2 separate regions of the Homo sapiens genome follow, and region 2 is linked to region 1. The links come from fine-mapping of genetic effects on gene expression. A gene starts in region 1. The other region holds a variant in brackets. All regions are shown on one strand. Distances are from middle to middle. Region 1 holds the start of MAP3K5 (mitogen-activated protein kinase kinase kinase 5). Region 2 overlaps MAP3K5 (mitogen-activated protein kinase kinase kinase 5).

Region 1 (15,244 bases):
TCAGCCTCCCAGGCTCAAGGGATCCTCCCACCTCAACCTCCCGAGTAGCTGGGAATAAGTTCTTACTCACTCCGTTAGGTTGAGCTATTCGAACATCACTGTTTCCCATGTAAACGTTGAGACCTTCATTAGGCTCTCCTTGCTTACCCTGCCATTTCACTTCAGGTGTCACCACCTTTAAGAAGCTACCCCTTGCCAGGTGTGGTGGCTCACACCTGTAATCCCAGCTCTTAGGGAGGCAGAGGCAGGAGGATAGCTTGAGCCCAGGAAATTGAGACCTGCCTAGGCAATATAGCGAGACCCCATTCTCCACAAAAAGGAAAAAAGCAAACAAAAAACAAGCATAAGAAGCTACCCTTGAACCCACTGTATCCTCAATCTGATTTTTGAAGCTGATTCCTGGGAGCCCAGCATCCTGGCACAGAGGCACTGCTAAGGCAAAGGCATTGGTCTGCCCTCCCCACCAACTCTGAGCTCTTCAGGGGCAGGAATATGATATATACAAGCAGTTCATTTAATCTCTACGAGCTGAAATGATTCATTTGTCTTAATAATGCTGTCATTTTAAAGTACAGAATTTGAGAGCTGGAGGGAATCTCAGATACCAATTATTCCAACACTCCACTCTTTTCTGAGGCTTTAAATGACTTGCTCCAAGTTAGAAAAGAATCAGGACCCAAAGCCAAACCTTGAAAATGCTGTTCTAATGCTTTGTGCCTGCATCCCATGCCACCTTGCCTTTGTAAATTCACAGGATTAAATAAGGGAATCCTAAAAAAATGTGTTCAATTCCCCCTTCACTTCTAACCCTGGTCAATTTTACAGGCAAAGAAACACCACTGGAGGCAATGAAGGGCCGTTCTCACAATTACATGGTTCACAGCAGAGCTGGGATGAAAACTCGGATCTAATATGAGGGACCATGTTCTTCCCACTATCTCATAAAAATTCAACTTTCAAGTACAGGTCATGGGTGTAGAGCAAAGGTCAGCATGGCACAGGGGCCAAATCCTGTGGGCCACCTGTTTTTGAGTATGGCTTGCAAGCTAAGAATGGTTTTTACATTTTAAAATGGTTATAAAACAAGAAATCATACTTTGTGAGGTATATGAAGTTCAAATTTCAGTGTCCACGAATAACGTTTGGTTGGAACATAGTCATGATCATTTGTTTAGGTCCTGTTTATGGCTGCTCTTGAGTAATAGGGCAGAGTTGAGAAGTTGTGAAAGAGACCTCAAGAAATGAAACCACACACCTAACACCATCTGATCTTCAACAAAGTCAACAAAGTAAGTAATGGAGAAAGGACTCCCTATTCAATAAATGGTGCTGGCTAGCCATATGCAGAATAAAATTGGACCCCTATCTATCACCATATACAAAAATTCATTCAAGATGGATTAAGGTTTAAATGTAAGACCTCAAACCATAAGAGTCCTAGAAGAAAGCCCAGGAAATACCATTCTGCATCAGCCTTGGGAAAGAATTTATGACTAAGTCCTCAAAAGCAATTGCAACAAAAACAAAAATGACAAATGGGACCTAATTAAACTAAAGAGCTTCTACACAACAAGAGACACTATTAAGAGAGTACAAAGACAACCCTCAGAATGGGAGAAAATATTCACAAACTACGCATTTAAGAAAGGTCTACAAATCAACAAGCAAAACAACAAATAACCCCGTTAAAAAGTAGGCGAAAGATATGAACAGACACTTCTCAGAAGAAGGCATACAAGCAGCCAACAAACTTATGAAAAAATGTTCATCATCACTAATCATCAGAGAAATGCAAATCAAAACCACAATGAGATAACATCTCACACCAGTCAGAATGGCTTTTGTTAAAAAGTCAAAAAATAACAGATGTTGGCGAGGCTGCAGAGAAAAGGGAACACTTACACACTGTTGGTGAGAATGTAAATTTGTCCTGCCACCGTGGAAAGTAATTTGGAGAGTTCTCAAAGAACTAAGAGCTGAACTACCGTTCGACCCAGCAATCCCATTACTAGGTATATACCCAAAGGAAAATAAATTGTTCTACCAAAAAGACACCAAACCAGATATTGAATGTTCTCACTCATAAGTGGGAGCTAAACATTGGGTACAAGTAAACTTAAAGATGGGAGGCTGGGTGCGGTGGCTCACGCCTGTAATCCCAATACTTTGGGAGGCCAAGGCAGGAGGACTGCTTGAGGCCAGGTTTGAGACCTGTCTGGGCAACATAGCAAGACCCCGTCTCTACAAAAAAAACATAGTAAAATAAAATAAAATTAGCCCAGCGTGGTGGCTCATGCCTGTAGTCCCAGCTACTCGGGAGGCTGAGGCAGGAGGATCACTAGAGCCCAGGAGTTCGAGCTAGCAGCGAACCATGATCATGCCACTGCACTCCAGGCTGGGCAACAGAGTGAGACCTTGTCTCTAAAACAAATAAAATAAAATAGAAACAAAGGGTTTGGATAAAACTGATGCACTACCTTCATTCTGTCACATTTTCATGCTTTCATGCTGACTGAGAGGGCACTCATCCTGGGAGTTCATGCCATCCAGATGGGCAGGGGTTAAACTGAGACCTGTCTAGGTTGAAAGAAGCAGTACGAAGGGACAGAGTGGGCGCAGGAAAAAGAGGCTTCCGAGAGCATGCCCTCCCCACTATTCCATACACACCTAAATGCCTGGTAAGATCTTTGCCAGCTCACTCACATGATTCCAAGATAGGGAGCTTCCCTTGATTCTGAGAGTAACTCAGCCCACCTAAATGGAGGAAGCAAGGGCCAAGCACAACCTCTTTTTTTTTTTTTTTTTTTTTTTTTTTTTAAGACAGAGTCTCATTCTGTCACCCAGTCTGGAGTGTGCAGTGGTACAATCTCAGCTCACTGCAACCTCTGCCTCCCAGGTTCAAGTGATTATCCTGCCTCAGCCTCCTGAGTAGCTAGGACTACAGGTGTGCACCACCATGCCTGGCTAATTTTTGTCATTTTAGTAGAGACAGGGTTTCACCATGTTGGCCAGGAGGCTGGCCTGGAACTCCTGACCTCAGGTGATCCACCCGCCTTGGCCTCCGAAAGTGCTGGGATTACAGGCGTGAGCCACCACGCCTGGCCCAAGCACAACCTTTTAGGGTCAGCCACCTGAAGTGGAATCCTGCATTGGCCACTTACTCCCTATGAATCCTAGGGCCAGTTAGGGATCCCTGGGTTTTCTCACCTAAGAAGGTAAGTACTTCCTTCACAGGCTTGTTTGGAGGATTCAATGAAATACACTCAAACTTCAGCTCCCTTCTAATCATTCTCTCTCCCTTTCCCAGAGACAGTATTTGGAGAATAACAGAAACCAAGCCTTGTTAGGAAAGTTTCTTTCAAATTAGCTTAGAGTTTAACATTTTTTTTCTAGAGCCCTAGGAAAAAAACGCCCAATCAGTGCAATAAAAATAGGCTCAAGTGTTCAGTTGGGTATTTTCCTCTCATATCTTTTAGTTCTTTGAAGTTTCTTCCAAATTATAATCCAAAAATAAGAGTGCTACAATTTTTAGAAAAGTTATGTTGATGTAACTTTTATAGCAAGCTACCCAAAGAATCAAGCTATATTATAGCCATGCTCAGTTATGAAGACCAAAACTATTTTAAAAATACCAGAACGAGAAAGTCCTAGTTTATTTAGTCTGGCTTCCTTAACATGAAGGTCTTGTTGTTCTCAAAATATTCAGCTTTGGCTGAATTCCAAAACTGACATAAGCCCACTTCAGGTGTTTGGAAGACACTAAAGAGAATCAGAATTGAAAACAAGATTGGAAAATAAAGCCTTTTATGTGATCACAAATGCAAGAAGTGTATTGTTTTGAAACTACTAAACCAAGTTTTTACCCACAAATGTAAACATAAATATGTATATATTCTCAACACTGGACGTACAGGGGACTAAAGGTTAATTTCCATAATATGGTATTATTCCTAACATTTGCTAACAGCTAAGTGCTTCAGTTACTAGAACTGCCTTAACATTTTCTGAAATTTGAGATAGGTTGAAAGATACATTTCTTTCATGGATTATGCTAGCAATCACTTTAATGGCGAAACTAATCTTATTATTAGGATAGCATACAGGTGTTTTAGACAATGTTAAATTACAAACTTTCTAGCCCACCATGGTTTATGGGGTAATAAAAAACAGGCCCTGGTTCTTTCACCAAAATCCTTACAAAGATAACACACAAGTTCAGTGTAAGTTGTAATGTTATTGCCTTTGGAAGCACTGTAATTACTTCAAAGTCTGGGTTGGTGAGAGGAAATTCAAGCTACTAAAACTTATCGAAGGTAAGGTGAGTTGGGAAGATCATCACATGGCATGCAAATTAATATAGTTACACTCTGCGTGCATGGTATGTCATCGTTCCCGTACTCTCAAAACTACACAGAGAAAAGGAGAACCTCATCTAAAACGGTCACAGGTATATGCAGAAAGAAAACAGGGACCAAACCTCACAGAAGCGAAACCGAGACACTGAAAGGAGAAAGACTGACTGGGGCAAATATCTCACACTGCTGGAGAACAGTTCAAGTCGATCGCATGGACCCAGGGCTCCAGCGCTGGGCGGTGGGTGGATCCATAGGTCTATCGCACAAGTACACACAGACTCTTGCACAAGCACACACGCTCTCTCCGGAGCGGCGAGCGACAGGAGCAGTCACGCAGCGGCGCTCGCTGCCCCCAAAGTGGGGCAAGAAGTAAATGCTTCCCGCCCAGAAAAATGAAATGCCCCGAAGACCGCCAGATTAAACGCGGGTCCCGACCGCGCGGGATGGGAAAGGGGTCACACACGCACCTGCATTGTAAAAGCGGTCCAGCACGGTGGTTTCTCCAAAGTCGAGTTTCCCAAAATGCAGGGTTTCCAGGGTGGCGCCCACTGTCTCGCACGCCTCCCGCAAGCTCTGCAGGGCCTCGCTCTCGGCCACCACCAGTTGCCCTTGGCTCGCTTCGTTGATCACATATGCCACCGTGGTCCGTCGGCTGCCCCCGCCAACAGAGCTGCCCCGGCCTCGGGTGGCACTGCTCGAGGAGGTGGCCGCCGGACAACCGATGCCAGGGGCAGCGGCGCTCTCCACGTTCCAGAAGCTGCCCGGCGGCGGCGGTGGCAGCTGGTGCTCCTCGCCCTCGCCCACCGCCGCCGCTCCTCCCCTCCTGCAGATGCCGCCCTCGGGGATGGTGCAGAAGCCCGAGGGGGCGAAGGGTGGCACAGAGAAAGTGATGCCCTCGTCCGCCTCCGTGCTCATCTCTCCGGGCCGGGCAGCAACGGCGGCGGCGTCCCCCGCCCAGCCGCACCGCCTGGCCAGCCACAGCTCGGGGCTGCTCCGCGCCCGCCGGGCTAAGCAGCTGCCATCGCGCGCCGCGCCCTCGCCGCCGCGCCGCCGCCTCCTCTCCGGCGCCCTCTCCCCCGAGGGCACGCCGCTGCCCGGCGGCGGCTCGCTCCTCCTCGGCGCCTCCGTGGCCGCGCCGCTCGCCCTCTGCAGAGTTTAGAGTACAAGGGGTGGGGAAGCCGGGTGAGCGGGAAGGGACGGAGCTTCCTTTTCTTGGCCGGCTGACAAGTCGGCTCGCAAACCTGCGCCGCGGTGCAGCTCAAGGGCGCCGCGCTCGGGGTGCAGCCCGCCCTCGCCACCCGCCGCGCCGCGCCGCGCCGCGCCGCGCAGCTCCTTCCGTCCCGGCCGCTCTGGGAGGGGCCAGGAAGGGCGCCCCCTGGGTGCGGAGCTACCTGGCGCGCACCTTACGAGCGGGCTGGCTCCCCAGGCGGCGTCCCGGAACAGCAGCAGCGGCAGCCGAAAGGACCCTCCTCCCTCTTAGGCGGCAGCTCGCCTTCATCGGGTGGATTTCCTCCTCCTTGCCTGGCCTCGTTTCTCTTTCGATCGCCTCCGCCGCGTGGTCCCGGCGCCAGCCTCGTCGTTCCTTGCAGACGCTCTCCCTCTCCACCACCAGCTTCTGGCCACCCACTCGTAGCGGCACCGAGGGTCAGGGCCAGCCCCCAAGGAGGGCGCTGCTAGGAAGCTCGAGCCCGGACTGAACTGACCGCGCTGCGGCCCTGGGACCCCAGCCCTCCTCTGAGTGCTGCGCGTGGCATAGGGTCCCAGTCTTCACCCACCCGGCCCCCACCTACGAAGACCTGGAGCGCAAGCGATTACGGGGTGGCGCAGAAAGTCCCTCGAGGCAATACTCGGTCTTCGGAGTCCGCCCCTGAAGCATTTCCAGTGTTCCCCGCGACTAGGGCGCCCCCCTCCGGGCCTTGGCGGCCTGGTGGACTGGGACCGTGCGCGGCGCTGGCAGGATAGGCTCCGGGAGACCCACGTTGCGCGAGGCAGGAGGTTGTACATAGCGCCCTGGAGCCAGGGCCTGCACTGGAGGTTGCTTCATTAGTGACTGTGGCACTCCAGAAGTGGCTGGCTAAATTGATCAGGTTCTCCCATGTACTTTTCCTTTTAAAATTTCCAGTGGCTCATTCCGTTATCAGTAATGAGTAATTGATTAGTGCCAACTGCCGAAGGACTTAGTATTCTCATTTAGGATCTTAATTCCCCCACAAGCGCCAGATACTTAAGATAGAAGATGGAGTCTCTACCCGACTCCACAAATTATCAACAAGATGAAACAGGGGAATAACGTGACCTATTCTATTTTTTAAACTGCATCACGCGAGGCCGGGAGGGAAATACCCAGATTGTTTAAGAGCAATCAAAAAAAGTACCTGCTTATTTGGGGAGCAAAGAACAGATGTGTAAGTTCCCAGAGAACCCCAGAATGCTGTAATTGTTAGGAAAGCCAGTGCAAGTTACAACTGAGTAAAGAAACAGGTTTTGTACTTCCCATCTCCAGGAACTGAGACTAGTGAGTCCTGTGAAAAAGGCAGAAGAAAATGTAAATTACTTTTTTTTTTTTTTGAGACGGAGTTTCGCTCTTCTTGCCCGGGCTGGAGTGCAATGGCGCGATTTCGACTCCCTGCGACCTCTGCCTCCCGGGTTCAAGCGATTCCCCTGCCTCAGCCTTTCGAATAGCTGGGATTACAGGCATGCGCCACCACACCAGGCTAATTTTGTATTTTTAGTAGAGACGGGAGGGGGAGGGGTGTGGGGTTCACCATGTTGGCCAGGCTGGTCTCTAACTCCTGACCTCAGGTGATATGCCCGCGTCGGCCTCCCAAAGTGCTGGGATTACAGGCGTGAACCACCCAGCCCAGCCATGAATTACATTTCAAACTGGGTAAGAAGGAAGGATAAAATAGCTGAATAGTAAAGAATTAAAGGAAAGTCTGGGCGCAGTGGCTCACGCCTGTAATCCCAACACTTTGGGAGGCCGAGGCGGGCAGATCACTTGAGGTCAGGAGTTCAAGACCAGCCTGGCCAACATGGTGAAACCCCCGTCTCTACTAAAAATACAAAAATTAGCTGGACGTGGTGGCAGCCGCCTGTAATCCCAGCTACTCGAGAGGCTGAGACAGGAGAATCGTTTGAACCCGGGAGGTGGAGGTTGCAGTGAGCCGAGATGGCGACACTGCACTCTAGACTGGGCGACAGAGCGAGACTCCATCTAAAAAAAGAAAAAGAAAAAGAATTAAAGGAAAGAGTTCTTTAATTTTCTCCAAGGTGGGAGGATTGCTTGAGCCCAAGAGTTCAAGATCAGCCTGGACAACATAGTGAGACCCCCATCTTAAAAAAAAATAATAATTAAAGGAAGGAAGGAAATAGTCATGAGGAAAAACACCTAGCCGCTACACAACTGTATCAATGAATCAATGTGACATTAGATTTTTCTAAAGGTGTATAAAATAATAGAAGTAAATTTCTAGTAAGGAAACTTTATATTCTTCATGTAAAATGGAATCTATGTGACCCACACTAGCTTTTGGAATTAATATCAATAGTAAAATAGGTAGTGAATCAGTGATTATACTGAAACAAAATGTTGCTGAGCTAGTAATAGTTATGTGCCTTTTAATATTTTCAACAACTTGTCAAACCTCCAAAACCTTGTAGGAGTAAGATAATCCTCCCCGCTATCCTCACCAAGAACCACAAACTCTGGAAATCGATGAGGTTCATGTGTGGAAAACTAAAACGCCTAAATGCTCAAGTAGCATTTTACTGTAGAAATACAAAATCTGAAATTATATATCAAGCTATTTTCCAAAGCTGTAACTTTTTATACCCTCTCACTTTGTGCTTTCCTTCCAGATCCTTTCAGAGCCATTTTCATACACAATTTTTATTTTTTGTTTTACTTTGCTGGCTTTTTTGATTTATTAACTTTAAATATGTTTTTTATGTTAGGCACCCAAACCCCAATACAATGTTGAAATTCTGCTTCTAGCTGGTCCAGAGATTCTCCCTCTACCTAAAAGGCACGGTTTAGGTAATTTATGTTCCATAGCATAGGGTTATGAGATAATGAGGAACTAGCTGGCAAGATTCTGGAAGAAAGGACAGGAATCCAGAGGGTGAGTCTACAGTCAGGGTTCCCTTTGGCTGTGGGATTTTTGTGGATCTGAATTAGGCAGCTGAAAGGCTGAAGTGAATTTTTTTAATGAAAAATAACGGTATTTTGCAAAACAAAACAAAAAGAATGGTGACACCGTTGTGCATTTTCACAAATCTTTTTAATGTCTGGCTTAATAGATGACAGTGGATTCTCATTTCTGCTTCTACATTCATGCTGTTGCAGCATGTTGTTTTGGTTGAAGGGTATAAAGAAAATCTGGAGAAGTTTCTGAAGTGTAGGAGGTATTTGAAGAAGTACATGAAGAAAATACTCTGGGAGGAGCACAGTCACTCCCACTGTGAAGGCACACATGAATTCCTAAAAATCACTGAGCTGTGCAAAATAGTGCTTTTTTTAAAGTAATTTCAAGTTTTATTTTAGATTCGGGGGTACATGTGCAGGTTACATGGATATATTGCATGATGCTCAAGTTTAGGGTACGATTGTTCTTGTCACTCAGGTAGTAGAAAGAGCACCCAACAGTTGGTTTTTCAACCCTTGCTCCCTCCTTCCCTCCCGTCCGCAGTGTCTGTTGTTACCATCTTTATGTCCATGTGTATCCAATGGGACCCTCTCCTGGGAAGGTCTTAAGACCCACAGTCAGAAAGGTGGGGGGTTGTTAGCAGGTAAAAGGAGAGCAGGAAAAAATTAGAGGCCTGCCTCTGAGGCCTAACACACTCAACATAACAGAAGACTATAACGAGGGTTATGGGAGTTACAAGCCAGAAACCACAGATGAAAACCAATATATATCGTAACACCACACTCTGTTCATAGTTTCTTTGGTTGTGCAGAAGCTGTTTAGATTAGGTCCCGTCTGTCAGTTTTTCGTTTTGCTGCAAATTGCTTTTCAGGACTTAGTCATAAATTCTTTCCCAAGGCCGATGTCTAGAATGGTATTTCCTAGGTTTTCTTCTATGATTCCTAGGGTTTGAGGTCTTACATTTAAATCTTTAACCCATCTTGAGTGAATTTTTGTATATGGTGATGGGTAGGGGTCCAGTTTTATTCTGCATAAGGCTAGCCAGCACCACTTATTGAACAGGGAGTCCTTCCCCATTGCTTATTTTTATCGACTTTGTTGAAGATCAGATGGCGGTAGGTGTACGGCTTTATTTCTGAGTTCTCTACTCCGTTCCATCAGTCTGAGTGTCTGTTTTTGTACCAGTACCGTGCTGTTTGGGTTACTGTTGCCTTATAGTACAGTTTGAAGTTAGGTAATATGATGCCTCTGGCTTTGGCTTTAGCTATTCAGGCTCTTTTGGGGTTTTATTTTATTTTATTTTATTTTTTCCTGCTGTTCTACAGGCTCCTTTTTGGTTCCATATGAATTGTAGAATAGTTTTTCTAATTCTGTGGAAAATGATGTTGGTAGTTTCTTAGGAATACCATTGAATCTGTAGATTGCTTTGGACAGTGTGGCCATTTAAACAAGATTGATTCTTCCAATCCATCAGCGTGGAATATTTTTCTGTTTGTTTGTGTCATCTATGATTTCCTTCAACAGTGTTTTGTAATTCTCCTTGTAGGGATCTTTCACTTCCTTGATTGGATGTATTCCTAGATTGTGTGCGTGTGTGTGTGTGTGTGTGTGGCTATTATAAATGGAACTGTGTTCTTGACTTGTCTCTCAGCTTGAACGTTATTGGTATATGAAAATGCTACTGATTTTTATACATTGATTTTGTATCCTGAAACTATACCGACATTGTTTATCAATTCTAGGAGCCATTTGGTGGAGTCTAGGTATAGAATCTTGTCTTCAGGGGATGAGGCGCAGTGGCTCATGCCTGTAATCCCAGGACTTTGGAAGGCCAAGGCGGGTATATCACTTGAGGCCAGGAGTTTGAGACCAGCCTGGCCAACACAGTGAAGCCCCATCTCTACTAAAAATACTGAAAAACAAATTAGCTGAGCATGTAGTCTGTAGTCCCAGCTACTTGAGATGGAGGTTGCAGAGAGCCGAGATCGTGCCACTGCACTCCAGCCTGGGTAACAGAGTGAGATTCTGTCTCAAAAAAAAAAAAAAAAAAAAAAGATTCTTATCTTCAGGGAAGAGAGATTATCTGACTCCTTTTCTTATTTGGATGCTTTTTATTTCTTTCTCTTGCCTGATTGCTGTGGCTAGGACCTCCAGTACTATGTGGAATACTGAGAATGGGCATCCTTGTCTTGTTCCTGTTCTTGAGGGCAATGTCTTTAGCTTTTGCCTGTTCAGTATTTGTTAGCTCTGGGTTTGTCATAAATGGCTCTTATTATTTTGAGGTATGTTCCTTTGATGCCTAGTTTGTTGAGGGTTTTTATCATGAAGGGATGTTGGATTTTATCAAAAGCTTTTCCCATACCTATTGAGATATTCATCTAGTTTTTGTTTTTAAATCTGTTTATGTGGTGAGTCACATTTATTGATTTGCATATGTTGAACCAACCTTGGATCTTAGGAATTAAGCCTATTTGATCGGGGTGAATTAACTTTTTGATGTGCGGCTAGATTCAGTTTGCTGGTATTTTGTTGAGGATTTTTGTGCCTGTGTTTATCTGAACTGAATTCTTGATAACATCTTGAGGACAAAATTAAAGATGATATACCCTACAAGTAAGAGTGAACTATAGGTTAGATGGCCCGTACGTGGACAGCAATCCTGCTTCCATTCATCTGAGTAACCCAGAAAGAAGTCTCAAACCCTAAAATTGTATTAAGGTAGTTCCCTGCATTTGAGAAACAAAATTCACTCCAGAGGAAGATGACATCATCTTGGGCCATGAATTATTTCTACAAATATAAGATCTGTAAATGTAAGCAAATATTTGAATGCACGGTAGCATGGTGGAATCAGAGCAAGAATGTGAACTGAAATTTTTGCCATCTGTTTCTGATTTTCCCCTCTAGATTCACTCTCCATTTATATCCCCCAGAGTCTCTGTCTTGGGAGGCTATGAATTAAGTCAATGGGCTCCCTTCCTTTCTGTTTATCAGTTGGATTTGGTCAGTGGGGAGTCCAGGCAGGGATCTGCAGGAGGAAGGACATTGGGAGCTGGGTATTTCTCTCCTGGACTCACTCTGTATGAGTCACTACAGGCTGGCTGTGTTCTTCAACAGAAGGTTATTGCTCTTCCCAAGGTGACAGCTCCTATGGGACTCACTTTCTAACAGGGTCTCATAACTGTCCCTTGCTTTGTTGTTTATTGGCACCTAGAAATGATAAAGTTGCTGGCCCCAAGCTCATGAAGAATTCCTTGAAGCCTCCTTATACCCTTCCACAGCTTTGTAATTAGTCTTTTTGTAAATAAACCCACTTCAAATTATCCTACCTGTTTCCTGTTGGGACTCTGATAACTACTAATGAGCGTTTAGAAATTAGAAAACTAATTTAACCTTTCTGGACCTGTTTCTTCATCCACAAAACACAGTGTTGAATTAGATTCCACTGAAAATCCTTTGAAGCTCCAATGTGCTATTTTAAGTATTTAGTTAAGATTCCAGTTCTTATACTGAATTGAAATGTGTAAAGAATGAAAATACCACTGGGCAACCATGTAGTAATAAGGGAACTTTTTCTTTACAGAAATATTCCAGCTAATGCATACAAAAGCCTGATGTCATTATAATATCACCATTTTGTAACTCTTAATGAATTTGGATTCAGATATCAATCTTTTTTTTTTTTTGAGACAGGTTCTGGCTCTATTGCCCAAGCTAGAGTGCAGTGGCTCCATCTCAGCTCACTGCAGCCTCTGCCTCCTGGGCTCAAGCAATCATCCCACCTCAGCCTAGTAGCTGGGACACAGACACGTGCTACCACACCCAGTTAATTTTTGTATTTTTGGTAGAGACAGGGTTTCACAATGTTGCCCAGGCTAGTCTAGAACTCCTGGGCTCAAGCAATCCTCCTGCCTCAGCCTCCCAAAGTGCTGGGATTACTGGCATAAGCCACTGCACCCAGCCTACATATCAATCATTAATAGTCACTAATATCATTAAAAGAGAGATGACCAGATTATTGCATGCCTCCTGATGAAAGAACACACCATCAACCATGAAGTAGTCATCCCAAAAACAGTGGACATGAATCTATCAAAGCCCCAGAACCCAAGGCCTGGGTTCAACAGTTAATTTCAGGACATATTAAAGTCATAAAAACAGGGTCAAATACTCTGGAGATGCAATGAGTAAAATCTAGACTGTAGGAAACTCTATAAGACAAATGGCTCACTTTCTTGCATGAATAAATTGCAGTGGTGGAAGAGGGCAACATTGAGATTAAAAGATTGTTAATTTGTAAAGATATAATAATACTATTGTGCTTATGTTAAAAAGGGAGTCTTCATATTTCAGAGACTCCATACAGAAATACTTATAAATGAGGTAAAATGATTTCTGGGATTGGCTTAAAAATAATATGGTAGGAGGTACAGGAATGCGTGAGAATACAGATGAAAGAAGATTGGCCCCGAACTAATGATTTTTTATAATGGGTACATGGATGAGGTTCATTATACTAGTCTTTCTACTCTTGTATATGCCTGAAATATTTCATAATAAAAAGTTTAAATAAAATAAAACCATGGAAACAAAGAATGTAAGACATTTTCATATGAAAAATGTTTTAACATTCTGACCACAAAAGAACATGTGTATAGTCTCATGCAAATCATCTTTTTATTTCATTTTTTATTTTTGAGACGGAGTCTGACTCTTTTGCCCAGGCTGGAGTGCAGTGGCACGACCTCAGCTCCTCAGCTCACTGCAATCTCCACCTCCCACTTCAAGCAATTCTCCTGCCTCAGCCTCCCGAGTAGCTGGGATTACAGGTGTGTGCCACCACACCCGGCTAATTTTTGTATTTTAGTAGAGACAGGGTTTCACCATGTTGGTCAGGCTGATCTCGAACTCCTGACCTCAGGTGATCCACCTGCCTCGGTCTCCCAAAGTGTTGGGATTACATGCGTGAGCCACTGCACCTGGCCTAATTAATACCTATTTTAATGTGGTGAGTGTTCCTATTGAGAGCCTAAACAGTTTTTACTTTGAAAATTAAGCCATGCCTGGGCATATGTGGACTCAGAGAAGAGTCCACCAGGGGAATCAGCTCATGGCTAATAGAGAAGCCTTATGAAGGTCAATAACCCCAGGAAAGAAACAGCAATGGTAAATCATTATGAGAGTCGCCTGCAGATGGAAGTACAACAGGGCAAGAGTGACTCAGTTTGCCCTGCAGTACTGCTTGCACAAGAGAGGCCCCTCCCTTGGGCTCTATGTTTTGGAGGGCCCAGCCATGTCCCTTTCTCAGAGAATCAGAGGTATGAACCCACAGAAAAATCCTCCTCTTCTAATTTGCCCTCTGGAGACCCCAGACCCCAGGATTATCTGCTCAAGCATCATCAAGCCCATTTTCAGAGCCTATTTGTGAGGGCTATAGATGGAGTTTGGCTGCTGAGGCTGGGATGTCTCCAAAAATGTCTATAAGATCTTGCAGAGCTAAAGATGGCAAGAAAGGTCACTCTCTCCATGCTACCGCACTTGGGTGTGGAACTCCAAGAAGTTCAATTGTAAATTCAAAATCCACCTTCCTAGCCTTTATGCAAGTATATTTGTCAAGGACAAATATATTTATTTAATAGTATATTAGCCTGATTAATAACTTTTAGGTAGGGCATGGTGGCTCACATCTATAGTCCTCACACATTGGGAGCCTGAGGCAAGAGGATCACTTGAAGCCAGATTCGAGACCAGCCTGGAAAGCATAGCCAGACCCCATCTCTTAAAAAAACAAAACAAAACAAAAAACCAGCATGGTGGCACGTGCCTGTAATCCAGTCTACTCAGGAGGCTGAGGTGGGGGGATCATTTGAGCCCAGAAGTTCAAGGTTGCAGTGAGTTATGATGGTGTCTCTGTATTCCAGACCAGGTGATAGGGCAACACCCAGTTTCAAAGAAAACAAAATTTTTTTTTTGTACCAAAGTCCTAGCTAGTGCAATAAGGCAAGAAAGTAATAAAATGAATAAATATTGGAACTAAAAAAGTAAAACTGCCTTTATTTGTAGACATGATTGTGTATGTATAACATCTTAAAAAATCACCAAAAATAAAAAATGCTAGGACTAATAAGAAGTCCCAATTTAGATATCCCAAATGTGATCTAAAAGTTCAACACAATGTCAAGCAAAATTTGTGCAGGCTTATTTTTGTAGAAATTGATAAGCTACATCTAAAATATACTTTTAAAGGATATGAATACATATATAAACATATGAAAAGCAAAGGGACTTGTGTAGCTAAACAATTTTCAAAGGAGGTCTTATACTGCTTGTTATAAAGCTCTGGTAACCTGACAATATGAAAAGACTGAATATGAATAGAGTCCATAAATAGGCACATAGATATGTTCAATTTGTTTTCAATAAGGGTGTCTCGGTAATTCAATGGGGATAGGGCAGTCTTTTCAAAACCAGTGTTTGAATAACCAGATACCCACAAAGAAAAAGAATGAACCTCAATCCTTACTTACGCTAGTCACAAAAATAACTAAAAATTGATCATGGGCCTAAATTTAAAGCAAAAGCTGCAAACCTAATAGAACAAAATAATGGAGAAAACTTTTATGAACTTGGGTTAGGCAAAGATGTCTTGGATATGACCTAAAATAAAATAAATTATAAATATATAATTTATATATAAATGTTATATAAATATGTATAAATATATAAAAATGTTATATATTGGAC
Region 2 (15,244 bases), 54 kb before region 1:
GCCAACAGAAAGGAAAGCCCTCTCCAGGGACAGCTGAAACACGCCTGAGTGACATCACTGGAAATGTGCCTGAAAGTAGCACCACCTGAGCTTCTGCATGTCGTGACGCCAATTTGTCTTCTTTTTCACTAAAAGGAATTCATTTTAGCATTCCTTTTACTTGTGATAGTAACAACGCTTACAACTACAGCAACAGAAGCAAGATGTAAGCCTCCTAAGCATCAAAAACACCATTTTTTGAACTCTTATCTGCCTACAATAGAGGTAAAGGAAAATATGAAAAGAGGGAAGATCTAGACTAGATTTGAACTTTATTCTGCTTAGTGGCCACAGGCAAAAGCCTTAAATAGACATTAAAATCCCAATCTTACAAATGAATGTTCTTGGTCACAAAATGGACTGGACTAACAAAAAATCCACTTTCAAGCACATAGTACTTTTTCTTTTTTGAGACAGGGTCTTGCTCTGTTACCCAGGCTGAAGTACAGTGGCATAATCACGGCTCACTGCATCCTCGACCTCCTGGGCTCAAGCGATCCTCCCACCTCAGTTCTCAAGTACCTAGGACTATAGGCATGCACCACTATGCCCAGCTAATTCTATTTATTTTTTGTAGATACAGTGTCTCACTATGTTTCAGGCTGGTCTTGAACTCCTGGTCTCAACCAGTCCTCCTTTCTTGGCCTCCTAAAGTACTGGGATTACAGGCATAAGCCACCACGTCCAGCTTCAAGCACACAGCATTCGATGATGGTTTAGTAAGTGCTATTGAGGGAGCCCTGCAAATACTGTCACTGGGTTGTCTTCAAGTGAATCCCTCATATCACTTCACAAAAAAAGTGGGTAAATCACAGTTTATATCTTCTGGTGCATACCAAGTACTTTATGAAGAGATATTTTCCTGATATGAGCATAGCAGTCTCCTACATAATTTTGCTTATTAGAAAAGTACAAATAGGTCCTACCCAAAAAAGTGTTATTCTCCTTCCAAGTTAAAACAGAGCCTGATTTATGCCTTAACTTTTTTTTGTCTTTAAGTTAAAAAACAAAAAACAAACAAAAAAAACCTTTTTTTTTAGAGCTGTTTTAGGTTCATGGCAAAATTGAGAGGAAGGTACAAAGACATCCCATATACCTGATGCCCTCACACACACACAGCCTCCCCCATTGTCAACATCCCCCACCAGAGTGGTACATTTTTTACAACTGATGAGCCTACATTGACACATCATAGTCACACAAAGTCCATAGTTTACATTAGGGTTCACTCTTGATGCTGTACATTCTTTGGGTTTAGATAAATTTATCATGATATGTATCTACCACTAAAGTATCATAATTATAGGATCATACAGAGTATGAGACCATAACACCCTAAAAATCCTCTGCCCTAAAAATCCTCCAGACTTTGCCTATCCATTCAAAAATTTATGTTTTAATGTCATGGTAACAGCAATACAACAGGTCAATGACCTATAAAGAGTATATAAGAAATGTATAAGTCAAAATGAACCGTAAAGTTTATTATGTGACAGGGACATGCTATACATTATAAATAGAAATGGGGGCTGGGTGCGGTAGCTCACCTCACCGTAATCCCAGCACTCTGGGAGGCTGAGGCAGGTGGATTACCTGAGGTCAGGAGTTCGAGACCAGCCTGGCCAAAATGGTGAAACCCTGTCTCTACTAACAATACAAAAAATTAGCCAGGTGCAGTGACACACACCTGTAATCCCAGCTACTTGGGAGACTGAGGCAGGAAAATTGCTTGAACACGAGAGACGGAGGTTACAGTGAGCAGAGATCATGGCACTGCACTCCAGCCTAGCCAACAAAGCGAGACTCTGTCTCGGAAAAAAAAAAAAAAAAAAAAAAAGGCAATGGGATAGGAGGCTAGTTTGTTGGTAAAAATTTCTGTATCGCCACGGCAAACTATTTTTCTCCTTGAAATGGTTATATTTCATGAAGGTGTGCTGGGTTTGAGTCTATATGCATAAATTTAGATCTCTATAAACTCATTTTGTATAAAACATTTCAGTCCTTAAGTAATAAATCTATTTTAATTAGATACTGAAAAGGCTGCTCATGAATATATGAACAGGCTTTTGTGAAGCTTATTACAGTTTTATTGTGGTTAAGGTCTATGTCATTTGTTTTTTTGGTCTCTCATATTTAGTTTTAATTAAACCATCAAAGCTTCATTCATTTATGCTTCAGTGAAGTTCCTCGGTCACACAGAGTAGCCCTTTGTAACTGTAAGATTCTTATGGGAGCATCCTCCCTCACAACCCAAACCAATAATCTGCCTCATTTAATTGGCACTTGTTTAAGTTACATAAGGTTATAGGAGTTGATTTGTGATAATTTTTGAAGAAAATCCAACTGTTCCTCACAGATGTGGATGCTGAGTGACATACTCTTACCTAATCGTCCTATACCTCTACAACCTCTTCACATGGAAAACAGAAAGAGGACAGGGAGAACTTCACATTCTCTGATGATGTTCAGTAGCAAAAATGGCTATGGTAGTTTAACTCATGCTTGAGGTTGTTCTGATTAAGAGGAGGTATTTCTCACTCTGGCTAGGGAAATAACTGTCATTTATATGAATTATGTTTACATAAGCATTAATAGTTATTAAAGCAGTGTAACATGGTGATACAGAAAAACTTAGACTCTAGAAAATTCTACAGGAAAAATGACCTGAATTCCTTAACAAAAACATCACAGGGGAGAAGAGGAGATGAAAGTAGAAATTAGATATTAAAAGAGACTTAAGGAACATAGTCAACTGTAATGTGTGGACCTTGGTTGGATTCTACAAAAGTAAACTTTAAAAAATCATGGCATTTATGAGATAATCAAAATTTTGAAAACTGACAGGATATTTGATGATATCAAGAAATGAATTATTTTAAGTATGATAAGGTACTGTGTTAGGAGTCCTTATCTTTCAGAGAAGAAAAATGTAGCATGATAGGCCGGGTGAGGTGGCTCAAGCCTGTAATTCCCAGCACTTTGCGAGGCTGAGGCAGAGGATCGCTTGAGTTCGGGAGTTTGAGACCAGCCTGAGCAACAAAGTCAGACCCCATCTCTATAAAAAGTGTTAAAAATAGCTGGGTGTGGTGGTGCGTGCCTGCAGTCCCAGCTACTAAGGAGCTGAGGCAGGAGGATGGCTTGGGCCCGGGAGTTCAAGGTTACAGTGAGCTATGATCGTGCCATTGTACTCCAATCCGGGTGACAGAGCACGAACCTATCTCTAAAAAAACAAACAAAAAAAGCATGATAATTTCATCCTATGTTAAAAAATAAAGAATGCTAATGTCTGGCACCACATGATGTATGCATTCCTTATCAAAAAAGCATTATCTTGCATGCCATAGAAATATAATTGTAAGTAAGAAACACTATACCATTATTGCTGTAGAAAGAAAATCAGTATTTTTTTTTCTTTCTACTCCTGTAGAAACTAAATTAAATGAAATCCAGTTGCATACTATTTATGGGCAGAAATCGTTGCTCATCCTGGTAAGCAAGCTAGTTTGGAGGGTTTTCCTCTTGTAATTATGGCTGTCATTTCTCGTGGTCTTAAATCCAGTTGGATCTAAGAAGTGTGGGTGAGCGCCTGGGAGCTCCACAGTGCTCCAAGATTCTTAATGTGTCAACGAATGGAAACCTCTCACAGTCAGGATTCAACATCTCTAAAAGAGGCCATACCCTTTCTTTCTACTCTGTTAAGCTCACTTTCGACACCTAATAATTTCATCTAGTCAAAATGTGCAATAGTTTTTGTTCAAATTTACTTCTTCTAATAGTATCTGTAATTCTGTTGACATGACAGATGTATAAATGATTCTGCCAGTAAATAATTTCATTCCTAGCGTACGTGTTGACATTCCATTTAAGTCCAACAATCCATTTAAGGGGGTTTGAGACTTCTTTCTTGAGAATTATTAGAGGAAATGAATAAGATTAAAACTATTCATTGTTAACTGATCTTTTAACTGCTGACAGACAGGTGGCTGGACTTCACTGACTATAATGAAAGAGTCTGGTTCTTTTTTCTTTCTTTCTTCCAATTGATTAAATCTATCAGTAAAGGAATTCGCATACTCTAGGAAAACTAATGTTGTTGTTTTAGAGACAGAGTCTCACTCTGTCACTCAGGCTGGAGTGCAATGGTATGGTCATAGCTCACTGGGCTCAACTGATCCTCCCACCTCAGCCTCCCAAGTAGCTGAGACTACAGGCATGCAGCACCACTCCTGGTTAATGTTTTACATATTTTTTCTAGAGACAGTGTCTTGCTAATTGGCCCAGGCTGGTCTCAAACCCCTGGACTCAAGTGATCCTCCCACCTCAGCCTCCCAAAGTGTTGGGATTACAGGTACGGATATGAGCCACTGTGTACAGCCATGTTGTTATTTTTTTAATGTGACAAATTAATTTTACATATATATATGTGTGTGTATATATATATATATATATAAACTTAGATGTGATTATATAAATGTCTCTTTAAAAGAAGGCTATCGACGGAGGCCAATATCCTAAGCAAATTACTGCAAGTACAGAAAACCAAATTCTGCATGTTCTCACTTGTAAATGACAGCTAAACATTAAGTACACATGGACATAAAAATAGGAATAGACACTGGGGATACTAGAGACGGGAGGGTGGGAAGGGGGCGAGGGTTGAAGAACTACCTATTGGATATTATGCTCACTACACCTGGGTGATGGGATCATTCGTACACCAAACCTCAGTGACACTCAATTCACCCCGTAACAAACCTGCACATGTATCCTCTGAAACTAAAATAAAAGTTGAAAAAAAGGCCAGCCACACAGAGATGAAGACAGGGAACCAAAGACCCTCACCAGCCCCACAATGGGGAAAATGAGATAAGCCTGCTGAATAGAGACAACAGACCAGAAAGGAAAGGAGAGGGCAGCCCCCGCCATGTATCACATACTAAGTCCCTCCAAGGAGCCCTTTGACGGCTTCTTATCACGCTGCCCAGGAGGCTCCGGTTTCTTCGCCTCAGCTTCCATCCATCATAGCACCATGGAATTAAGAACTCCCTTTACTCTGTTCTCCCACATGTTGATTTTAACACACATGATTGTCTATACTGTGCAAAGTACTGAGAAGGGGTCAAAGAAATCAGCATCAGCCCTTCATGGGCTGATAACCTTCAAGTGCAATGGCTGGACATGTGAGCAGCAGAAGTGCAAAGTCAAATGAAATAGATGTAAATGTTCTTTGGGAGCAGAGGACAAGGAGTGGCTGATTCTTACAGGAGTAATGGAGAAGGCCATTCAGGGCAACAGCTTCACAGTAAGCCTTGAGAAGTGGTAGAATTTCAGGATGCAGGGCCTGGGAAGAAGGGACATTCCTGGCTGCTTTGCAATTGCATAATATAGGAGTTTCTTTTTACCAGAAAAAATTGCTCCACTACCTAAGAATGGACATGTACACCACCACCCACCGAATGAGAAATGGCTTATCGCTCTGCCCAGCTGGTCTTTCCACAGGAAGTTTACAGGGAGAAAAATAAATTGCACAATCATTTTTTGGGAACACTTTTCAGTAAAAACTTTTCTTATTAGGGAGAAAGAAATTTCATTTTACTTGTGTCTTTATGCATTCTACCATGCCCGACTAAATGCATCCTCTCCTGTAACGTATCGCTTGGATCCCCTACTTCCCTGGTCCAAGGGGAGTTTCGGTACCTCTTCCTGGCAAAGCTCTCTCTACTTGAGACCTTATAGCTGCGGACCTGCTTGTCTGTGTCCTCCAAGGGACCTGACTGTTTTAACAGAAATACCCGGCAGAGGAGGCATTTGATGGTAAGGAGACAGCTTCTAATTCACATTGCTAAAATGAGAGACAAACAAACAAACAGAAGACAACCTGTGGAAAAGGCTTCTGAATAATAAAAAGAGTCTTCCAACTGGCACTCAGCCCAAGAGTCCACAGATCATCACCACAGCAACAGACAGTATTTGGAGGCAATGAGGAGCACAAAATGCAGATCTGGCAAAGGCATTAGCAAAATTATTCATTTCAAGGAGACTATATAAGCTCCTGAATTTGTAGCATTCGCTTCTATATGTATATTAGCCATCAGAAACAGAAAGAGCTAATGAGCTGAAGTGCTGGTGAGAACAGTCAGGGTACCACATACAGCTAGCTCTACTTGGAACAGACGGCTGATGGCCTAAGGAACCTGTAGCCACGTCAGCTCCAAAGCAGGGACCGGTTCAGTCATCAGTGCAGCCAATGTTCATGAAATCCCTACTAAGTGCCAAGGGATACTAAGTGCTAAGGTCCAAGGGATACAAAAGTCATCCAAACACACACACGCGTGCACACACACACACACACACACACACCCATGCACACTAGGTTCCTGCCCTCAGAAAGCTTATGATCTAGCAAGAGAAGAGACAATCAAATAAACGTACAAAAACAAATGCACACTGTGGTAAGTGTGTTGACGACATGACACAGGGCATTTTGAACAGTACAACAGACAGAACTGATTCGTCAGTGGAGCTCCCCTGACAAAGTAATGGTGTCTGAAGGAGATATAGAAATAAAGGGATGTAGAAGTAAATGTGGCCTATCAGTAGTCAGTGCTGACCAGGCATTACAAATGGCCATGGTGTCGCTCCTGCCTGCTATGCCTGGGGTGTAGCTGGCTGGTGTCAGAATGCCCAAATCCACACTTGCTCTGTGCAGCCCTCAACACCCTGAGCCCATTTCCTCACCTGTCAACCAACAATAACAATAGTCTTTGTCACAGAAAGGGCTTAACAACAAAGAGGTGTCAATGAACATCAGCCACGACTAGAGAGTGGGCCATGGGTCAGGGGGACATTCACCCCTCACTCCCACCCCAGGGTACTGTCAATCACTTACAGACATTTTTCTTATTTCCTGTACTTTTTTCTCATACTTTTCCTATTCGATAAACAGGAAGTATGGAATCAGTAAGATGAGTTTCATTCTTTTCAGTAGACCCTTTAGTGCCTTAAAAAAGTCTGTAGTTAAAGAGCATCTTCAAGAGAGGTCCTAGACCATATGGACACAACCAACATTTGCAGTCACTATTTTGGGGGGTCTGAAGGGGGCAGACCAGGGCAGCTAATGGCAAGCCCCGTAGAAGGTGCAGAAATTTTCCAGCTGAATAAATATTCCAGTTTGCTTCAAACAGTCTTAGATGTCTGTTATCCCATGATATGTATGATCTCATTGTCATTTCTAGTAGATCCCCCCATTCATTCTCAAGTGTCCTGGTTGGGCCCTAAGCAAGCGGCAGTTCCTGCACCATTAGCTGTCCCTTCCATGGGCAGTGGCAGCAGGGGCCTGTAGCTGCCAAGAAACTCAGCAGGAGCCCCTCTTTACAGCTGCTACTCTAGGTGGCTTGGCCCCGGGGCTTCCACAGGATGAAGACCCCAGCCCTGCATGTTCTTCAAATTATTCTCAGACACAAGCTGCTTTTTCCAAATCTCCCAGCCAAGGTAATGATGGAAATTTTACAAATGGCATGGAGTAGAATCAGACAGCTTTTAAACTCCAGCCCTCGCTCTTCACAGTAAATTGCATTTCATCTTGCTGCAATTTTTCGTCTTTTCTTTGGTCATTTCTTGTTTGTGTGGGAGTGTGCACAGCGGGGCTGGGGACGGGGGAGGTGAAGTGTTTTTCCCTTCTTTTTACCTTCCCCCTCTTTCACCTTTAATCTTGGTTTTCCTTTTTTGGAATCTACATCTTCCTCCAAGGGCTGATCTTTGTCTTCTTGAATTTCTGCTGTTTACTTATGATTTCTTACTGAAAATATTCATGTCAC[G/A]TCAAGTTTCTTTTAGACATCAACAAGCCAGAGCTGGTTTTATAATGCAGACCACGTGTCCCCTGAGTCCTGGACTAAAAGTCCCAAATACTCTTTGGAAACTGGCTTAAACCAGGTCGTCATATCTGAAAGACTTCTCCCCAGCTCTTTCTACCTCCGTGTGATTTATTTAAGAGCAAGACTGAGACAATAAAAAAAAAGAAAGATTTAAAAAAAGAAGAAATGTTACCTGAAATTCCACCATCCATAATCCCACCATTAACCAGATGACATTTTTCCTTGGATTCTCGAGTGAGTTTTTATGTTAGCTTACTTTTAGAAAAAGTGCTACATAAGTTATTTTCTTAAACTGCTCTGAATCTTCCCTTTGTGCCTGTCATCATAAATAAACCAGACTTCTGAGAAGGAGCTTGAGTGCTAAATTACAAAGGGGCAATTTTCTACCATTTAATTGGATCCTACTGCTCTGTACGAGAGCTAGATTTTTTACTTGTTTTGAAAATGAGGGTCACATTAAGATGGTGAATTTTTTTCACTCCTGGAGAGACTATTTACTTCTTCATGTTGAATTCCCAATAGTTCTCACCACATTTCATTATAATATATGCACTTGCTTTTCCATCAATAAGACTGTCTTGGTTGTCGATATAGACCATGACAGTAGCAATGTGAGCCTCTTAACTAAATGTAAGAAATAATGAAACTATATCCAGGCAAATGATAAACAATTTAATGGTTGACAACCCTCAAAAATATAATATATTTAGTCCTTAGTAGCAAATAAATATACATATTAAAATGACCTGTTATTAGCTAGCACACGGAGATACTAACCATTTTGGTATTTCACTCTAAGCGTTTTCCTATACAATTTATTATGCATACAAATAAACATACACATGCCCATTTGGTATGGGAGCAAAATTCAAATTATTGATTTATATATTATCAATTCAAAATTGAATTATAGATAATGTTTCAATCACAACCACTTCTAATTGCTAACTTCACAGCTGGAGAAGCCTGAATAAGATGTTGATAATTTGCAGTCAAATCAAAATAATAAAAGTGTTCAAATACCTACAAAAAAAAAAAAACCCTATAGCTAACATCATACTTAATGGTGAGAAACTAGCTTTCCCACTAAGGTGAAGAAAAGGGCAAAGCTGTCCCCTGTCACCACTCCTTTTCAACATCATACTGGAAATCCCAGCTAATGAAATAAAATGAGAAAAAAATAAAAAGTATACTGATGGAGACAAGAAATAAAACTTGTCTTTGTTCACAGATGGCAGGATCATCTATGTACAAAACCCAAGAGAATCAACAATAACAAAAACCCTCCTAGAATTAATAAGCAATTATAGCAGGGTTTCAGGATTCAAGATTAATATGCAAAAGTAAATTGCTTTTCTATATGTCTGCAATAAACAAGTGGAATTTGAAATTAAAAACACAATGCCATTTACATTAGCACCCCCAAAAATGAAGTACTTAGGTATAAATCTCACCAAATACGGATAAAAACTATATGAGGAAATCTATAAAACCCTAATAAAAGAAACCAAAAAAGAACTAAATAAATTGAGAGATATTCCATGTTCATAGATAGGAAGACTCAATGTTGTCAAGATGTCAGTTCTTCAAAATTTGACCTATATATTCAATGCAATCTCAAGCAAAATCCCAGCAAGTTATTTGGTGGATATTGACAAATTGATTCCTAAGTTTATGTGGAGAGGGAAAAGACCAGAAGAGCCAACACAATATTGAAGAAGAACAAACTGACATTACCTGATTTCAAAACTTACTCTAAAGCTCTATAACAAGACAGTGTGGTGTAGGTGAAAGACTACAGAAATAGATCAACGGAACAGAATAGAAGCCCCAGAAATAGATCCACATAAACACAGTCAACTGATGTTTGACAAAGAAGCAGAGGCAATATAATGAAACAAGGATAATCTTTTCAACAAACGGTGCTGGAACAACTGAACCTCTACATGAAAAAAAAAACAAAAAACAAAAACAAAAAAAACACAAAGATACAGACCTTACACCCTCTGCAGAAATTAACTCAAATGGATCATAGTTCTAAATGTAAAATGAAAAACTATAAAACTCCTGGAAAATAACATAGAAGAAAATCTAAATGACCATTGGTATCATCATAACTTTTTAGATACAATATCAAAGGCATAATAAAAGAATTATAAGCTGGACTTTATTAAAACTAAAAATTTCTGCTCAGCAAAAAAAATTGTCAAGACTGTGAAGAGAATGAGAAGACAAGCCACAGACTGAGAGAATATATTTGCAAAAGACATATCTGTTAAAGAGTGTTATCCAAAATATACAAAGAATACTTAAAACTAAAAAATAAGAAAACAAACGATGAGATTAAAAAATGGGCCAAAGACCTGAATGGATACCTCATCAAAGAAGATATACAGATAGCAAGTAAGCATATGAAAACATGTTCATGGGGCCAGGCAAAGTGGCTCACTGTTGTAATCCCAGCACTTGGGGAGGCCAAGGCAGGAGGATCACTTAAGGCCAGGAGTCATGGTAGAAGGACTACCTGAGCCCAGAAAGCTGAAGGCTGCAGTGAGCTATGCTCATGACACTGCACTCCAGCCTGGGTGACAGAGACCTTGTCTCTAAAAAAAAAGAAAAAGAAAAAGAACAAAAGATGCTCAACATCATCTGTCATCAGGGAATTGCAAATTAAAACATTAAGATACGGCTGGGCGCAGTGGCTCACGCCTGTAATCCCAGCACTTTGGGAGGCCGAGGCGGGTAGATCATGAGGTCACGAAATCGAGACCATCCTGGCTAACACGGTGAAACCCCGTGTCTACTAAAAATACAAAAAATTAGCCGGGCATGGTGGCAGGCACCTGTAGTCCCAGCTACTCGGGAGGCTGAGGCAGGAGAATGGCATGAACCCGGGAGGCGGAGGTTGCAGTGAGCCAAGATCGCGAAACTGCACTCCAGCCTGGGTAACAGAGCAAGACTCTGTCTCAAAACAAAAACAAAAACAAAAAAAAAATTGAGATACCACTACACACCTATTCGAATGGCTGAAATCCAAAACACTGACGCCATCAAAGGCCAGTAAGGATGTGGAACCACAGGAAGTCTCATTCATTGATAATGGGAATGCAAAATGATACAGCCACTTTGCAAGACAGTCTGGTGGTTTATGATAAAACTAAACGTTTATACTATTGCTATACAACCCACCATTTGCACTCCTTGGTATTTACCCAAATGAAGTGAATTATTATGTCCACACAAAACTTGCACACAGATGTGTATAACAGCTTTATTCATAATTGCTAAAACTTGGAAGCAACCAAGATGTCTTTCAGGATGTAAGTGGATAAATAAACTGTGGTACAGACAGACAATTCATTATTATTTAGGGCTAAAAAGAAATGAGCCATCAAGCCATGAAAGGACACGAAGGAAACTTAAATGTACACTGTTAAGTGAAAGAAGCCAGTATGAAAAGGCTGTGACATTCTGAAAAAGAGAAACTATGGAAAAAGCAAAAGGATAAGTGGTTGCCAAGGGTTGTGAGGAGGGATGAATAGGCAGAGAACCAAGATTTTTAGGGCAGTGCAACTATGCTGTACAATATACTACTATAATTGTGGATACATGTCATTATACATTTGTCCAAACCCATAAAATACACAACACCAAGAATGAACCCTAATGTAAGCTATGGGCATCAGGTGATAATGATGTGTCAATGTAAGGTTCACCAATTGTAACAAATGCACCACTCTAGATCAGTATATTAACAGCAGAGGAGGCTGTGTTTGTGGGAGGGTAAGGAGTTTATGGGCAGTCTCTGTACCTTCTGCTGAGTTTTGCTGTAAATCTAAAACCGCTCTGAAATACACATATATATGTATATATACACGTGTGTGTACATACATATATACATATATATATGTATATATGAGAACCCTTGACTCTCCCATGCCCAGAAAAGTCTCTGTTCATGGTGTCAGGGTTATAAGGAAGGCTCCTGACACTTTGACAGAAGCCAAAGAACTCCCACAGATATCTTGAGATTGTGCTGGAAGGAGGACCTAGTCCATGCCACCACAGTTTGGAAATCAGCAGCTCCCAATCCAGCAGCAGAAAGTAGAACTTCCAACCCCATGCACTCCAACATGGACAGGTATCCACACCTTGCACACCCCTCACCAGCACCTACACCAGGGAGTTCTGGTTAGAGAAGTTACGGCTCAATGAAGTGCAGCTGCAAAGCCTAGTCACTTAAAGAATAATTCACAGCCTTGGCTGCACATTGTAATCACCTGGGGGCTTTGAAAAGCAGCAAGTCTGAGTCCTCAGCCCAGAGATCCTAATTTACTTGGTCTGGGGTGTAGGGTGGCCATCAGGATTTTTGGAATCAGGTGATTCTAATTTTCAATAAGACTAAGAACCACAGATTTGGAAGCTGATTTAAAGACACTCATCCATCAACCATGCCGCAGAGCACCGACTGCTTATTTTAGCATTTTGATCCATTATCATGCTCCTTAGAAATTCTGGCAACAAATATTCATTTTCACATTAATGGAAATAAATTGCTCTTAAAATGAAGACCAGTGTAAGTGGTATTTGGCTGGAACATAATGTTTCCTGTTCAGAATACTGACAGGGCAGCAGCGGGCATACACTTGGCAGTCATTAAAGTTTTTTTTTTTTTTTTTTTTTTGAGCAACTTAATTGGAGCTTCGGCATCTATTATGTATCTTGTTTAGAAAAGTTCCTTTAAATTGAATAGACGAAGATGACTATTTTTCCCTTTCCTATATCAGAGTATTAAAAATGGGATAAATATAATCATGTATTTCACCAACACAAATTGTTGGGAAGAAAATTAATTTTCTCTCCATGTTCAACTCTCAACACACGAATACACTTTTTGAAAATACAAGAACACTGACGTGACCTAGAAAAAAGGTTTTGTCAGGGCACTCAAAGAGTTAAAGGAAAGGCCGGCCAGCTCCCTGCCTCTGGCTGCTGTGGCAGGGAGGAGGATGCTGGGAACGCTCCCCACTGAATGGCTCTTTCTCCCCTTCTTTGAGCTGGGAGTAGAGGAATGCAGTGACTCCCAGCACACCTACCATCCTGCCCATGAACATCACAAGACCCTGTTCACAGGGTGGACTCTAAAAATAAAATTCCTTGTGCCGCTGCCTGTGCCTCAGTTTTTCTGCAGGCATTCTGCATGTTTCCGCTGCTTGTTTGTTCAAAGCCTTCCAGCTACACACACAGAAGAAGGGCCCGTGGACATGAAAAAGAGCTCACATCTGTATCTGCTACTTAACAATATTTTCAATAAAGGCATAGATAATGTCTTTTTTGGTAGCAAGAAATTTAATCTAGATAATTCCGAGGAGAGTTAGCATAACCCAGAGATTTCTTAGTCACGTTCCAAAGTCTCATCCTAACGTTAGCTTAATGTCTAACATTGCTTCTCCCTTAAACCCAGATTGATTCTGCTTATGGGATGTTAGTTGGTAAGGAGCATGCATAGCCTGGAAACAGGGTCAAGAGAAGAAGCAGGAAGACTAGTTAGGAGACAGCTGCATGGGTCCAGGTGCGAAATGCTGATGATGTTTGAACTAGGATGGTGGCAGTTTTGGAAGAGTGTCAGATACTTCAAATGATTTAATATCTTAACTCTTGACTTCCCCAATAGAACAAATACCAACTATGGTAAATACAGCAGGTTTATGGCTTAATGTTCAAGTTAATAAGTATTCTCTAGGTTTACAGAATGAAAAAACCAGACATAAAGGACTCAAATGAAATAAATTTCATAAAATTTTGAGGGGGGGGCAGGAAAATACAAATACGTTCATGTCTGTAGGTCTGTGAAAAACGATACAGGTGGAAGATAATCTTACCTGTAATAACATGATGTCTGACTATGAGCTATTAGTTACAACTTAATTATTGACCCAGGAATTTCTATGTACTGTTCTATGGAAGTATTTGGGTCTCTTTAAATGAAAATGACTAGCGAGGCACTGAACATCACGGAAAGAATGCCGGATACACAATTGAAAGTGGTATGCATTTTAATAACTATCCTAGAAGAAAGCTATGGCCCCACCACACAGAGAAAACCATGCAGGGTTCTAATACCCACGAGAGAGGGAGACAAAATCTATGTATAATCATGGTTTAACAGGGGAAAAAAAACAATTTGAGTATGCATAACAATATTCTTTCCTTTTTGCAATAAAAAAGCAATAAGGATTAGTGAGAAAAATTAGGGGAAATCCCCCAGTCCTCTTTCTGACCCCTACTCTTCAGTACCTCTGGTGGCCTTGGTTTGAACACCGTCTGTGCTCTAAGAATGGTCAGTTTGCTACATACAGTTGAAAGAATTACACTTCTTGTTAGAATATTCAAATTCTTTAAAAATGTATTTTTTATACAAATGCAAAATCTGTCTCTAACTTCTACTGATTCACTGCTTCAATTTTCTTTCGTTTTTTTGAGAGACAGGGTCTTGCTCTCTCAATCATAACTCACTGCAGCCTCAAACTCCTGGACTCAAGGGATCCTCCCACTTCAGCCTCCCCAGTAGCTGGGATTATAAGCACGCGCCACCATGTCTAGCTAATTTTTAAATCTTTGTAGAGGCAGGGTCTTGCTACATTGCCCAGGCTGGTTTTGAACTCCTGGTCTTATTGGCCTCCCAAAGTGCTGGGATTACAGGCATGAGTTGCCATGTCTGGCCCATTGCTTCTATTTTCTGCTTTCCTAAAGCTTCACTGAAAAACTCAAATTCCTTCTCTTCCAGAAACCTTCAGACACTTAAGAACAGTAATCCTGGCATCCATGACATTTTCTTATCCAGGTTACAACATCTCTGGTCCCTTCATAGGGCAGCAGGGCTTCTAGTCCTGTTAGTACGGGTGCTGTCTAGATACACTCTGGCCAAAGAATGTACAGGGAGCCAATGCCCATTAAAAGAATTTTCTGGGGCGAAACAAACTATAACTCTAAAAGGAACCAACAGAACCGAAAACCCACCACAATAGTATATGCTGGAAATGTACAGCAAAGGCTGAGAAGCCTGGTGCATGTTTAGCTATTAACAGGTCATGAGTGTCTTTTGCAAGACTGGCAGATTAAAAACAATGGATTGAAGAATAAGTGGGAGGTTATGAGGCAAAAATTGTGAGTTCAGACTAGTGTTCTCAAATTTAATGTGTACATGAATCACCAGGATATTGTGTCAAAAAAGAGATTCTGATTGAGCTGTGTGACATTGGGGTGATGATTACCTTTCTCATAAGCACCCAGTTGATGCCCATGCTGCTGTGTAGGGACCACATTTTGAG

The links. PIP is the estimated chance that this variant, and not a neighbour inherited with it, causes the effect.
Region 2: its variant is fine-mapped to the expression of MAP3K5 in aorta (GTEx, PIP above 0.99).

Annotation. Positions count from the first base shown.
Region 1 is chr6:136,786,888-136,802,131 of GRCh38, forward strand. It overlaps MAP3K5 (mitogen-activated protein kinase kinase kinase 5), which reads right to left and starts at 5,590. Exons shown (of 30, transcript NM_005923.4): 1 at 4,823-5,590. The coding sequence starts at 5,270. RefSeq lists enhancers at 4,340-4,855, 4,961-5,030, 5,821-6,050, 6,161-6,220, 6,591-6,670 and a silencer at 5,161-5,800.
Region 2 is chr6:136,732,569-136,747,812 of GRCh38, forward strand. All of the region lies in intron 1 of MAP3K5 (mitogen-activated protein kinase kinase kinase 5), which reads right to left. Among named protein-coding and RNA genes, the nearest start is that of MAP3K5-AS2, 44 kb to the right of the region's middle. RefSeq lists an enhancer at 12,455-12,624. The variant G/A (reference allele first, on the strand shown) is at 7,857.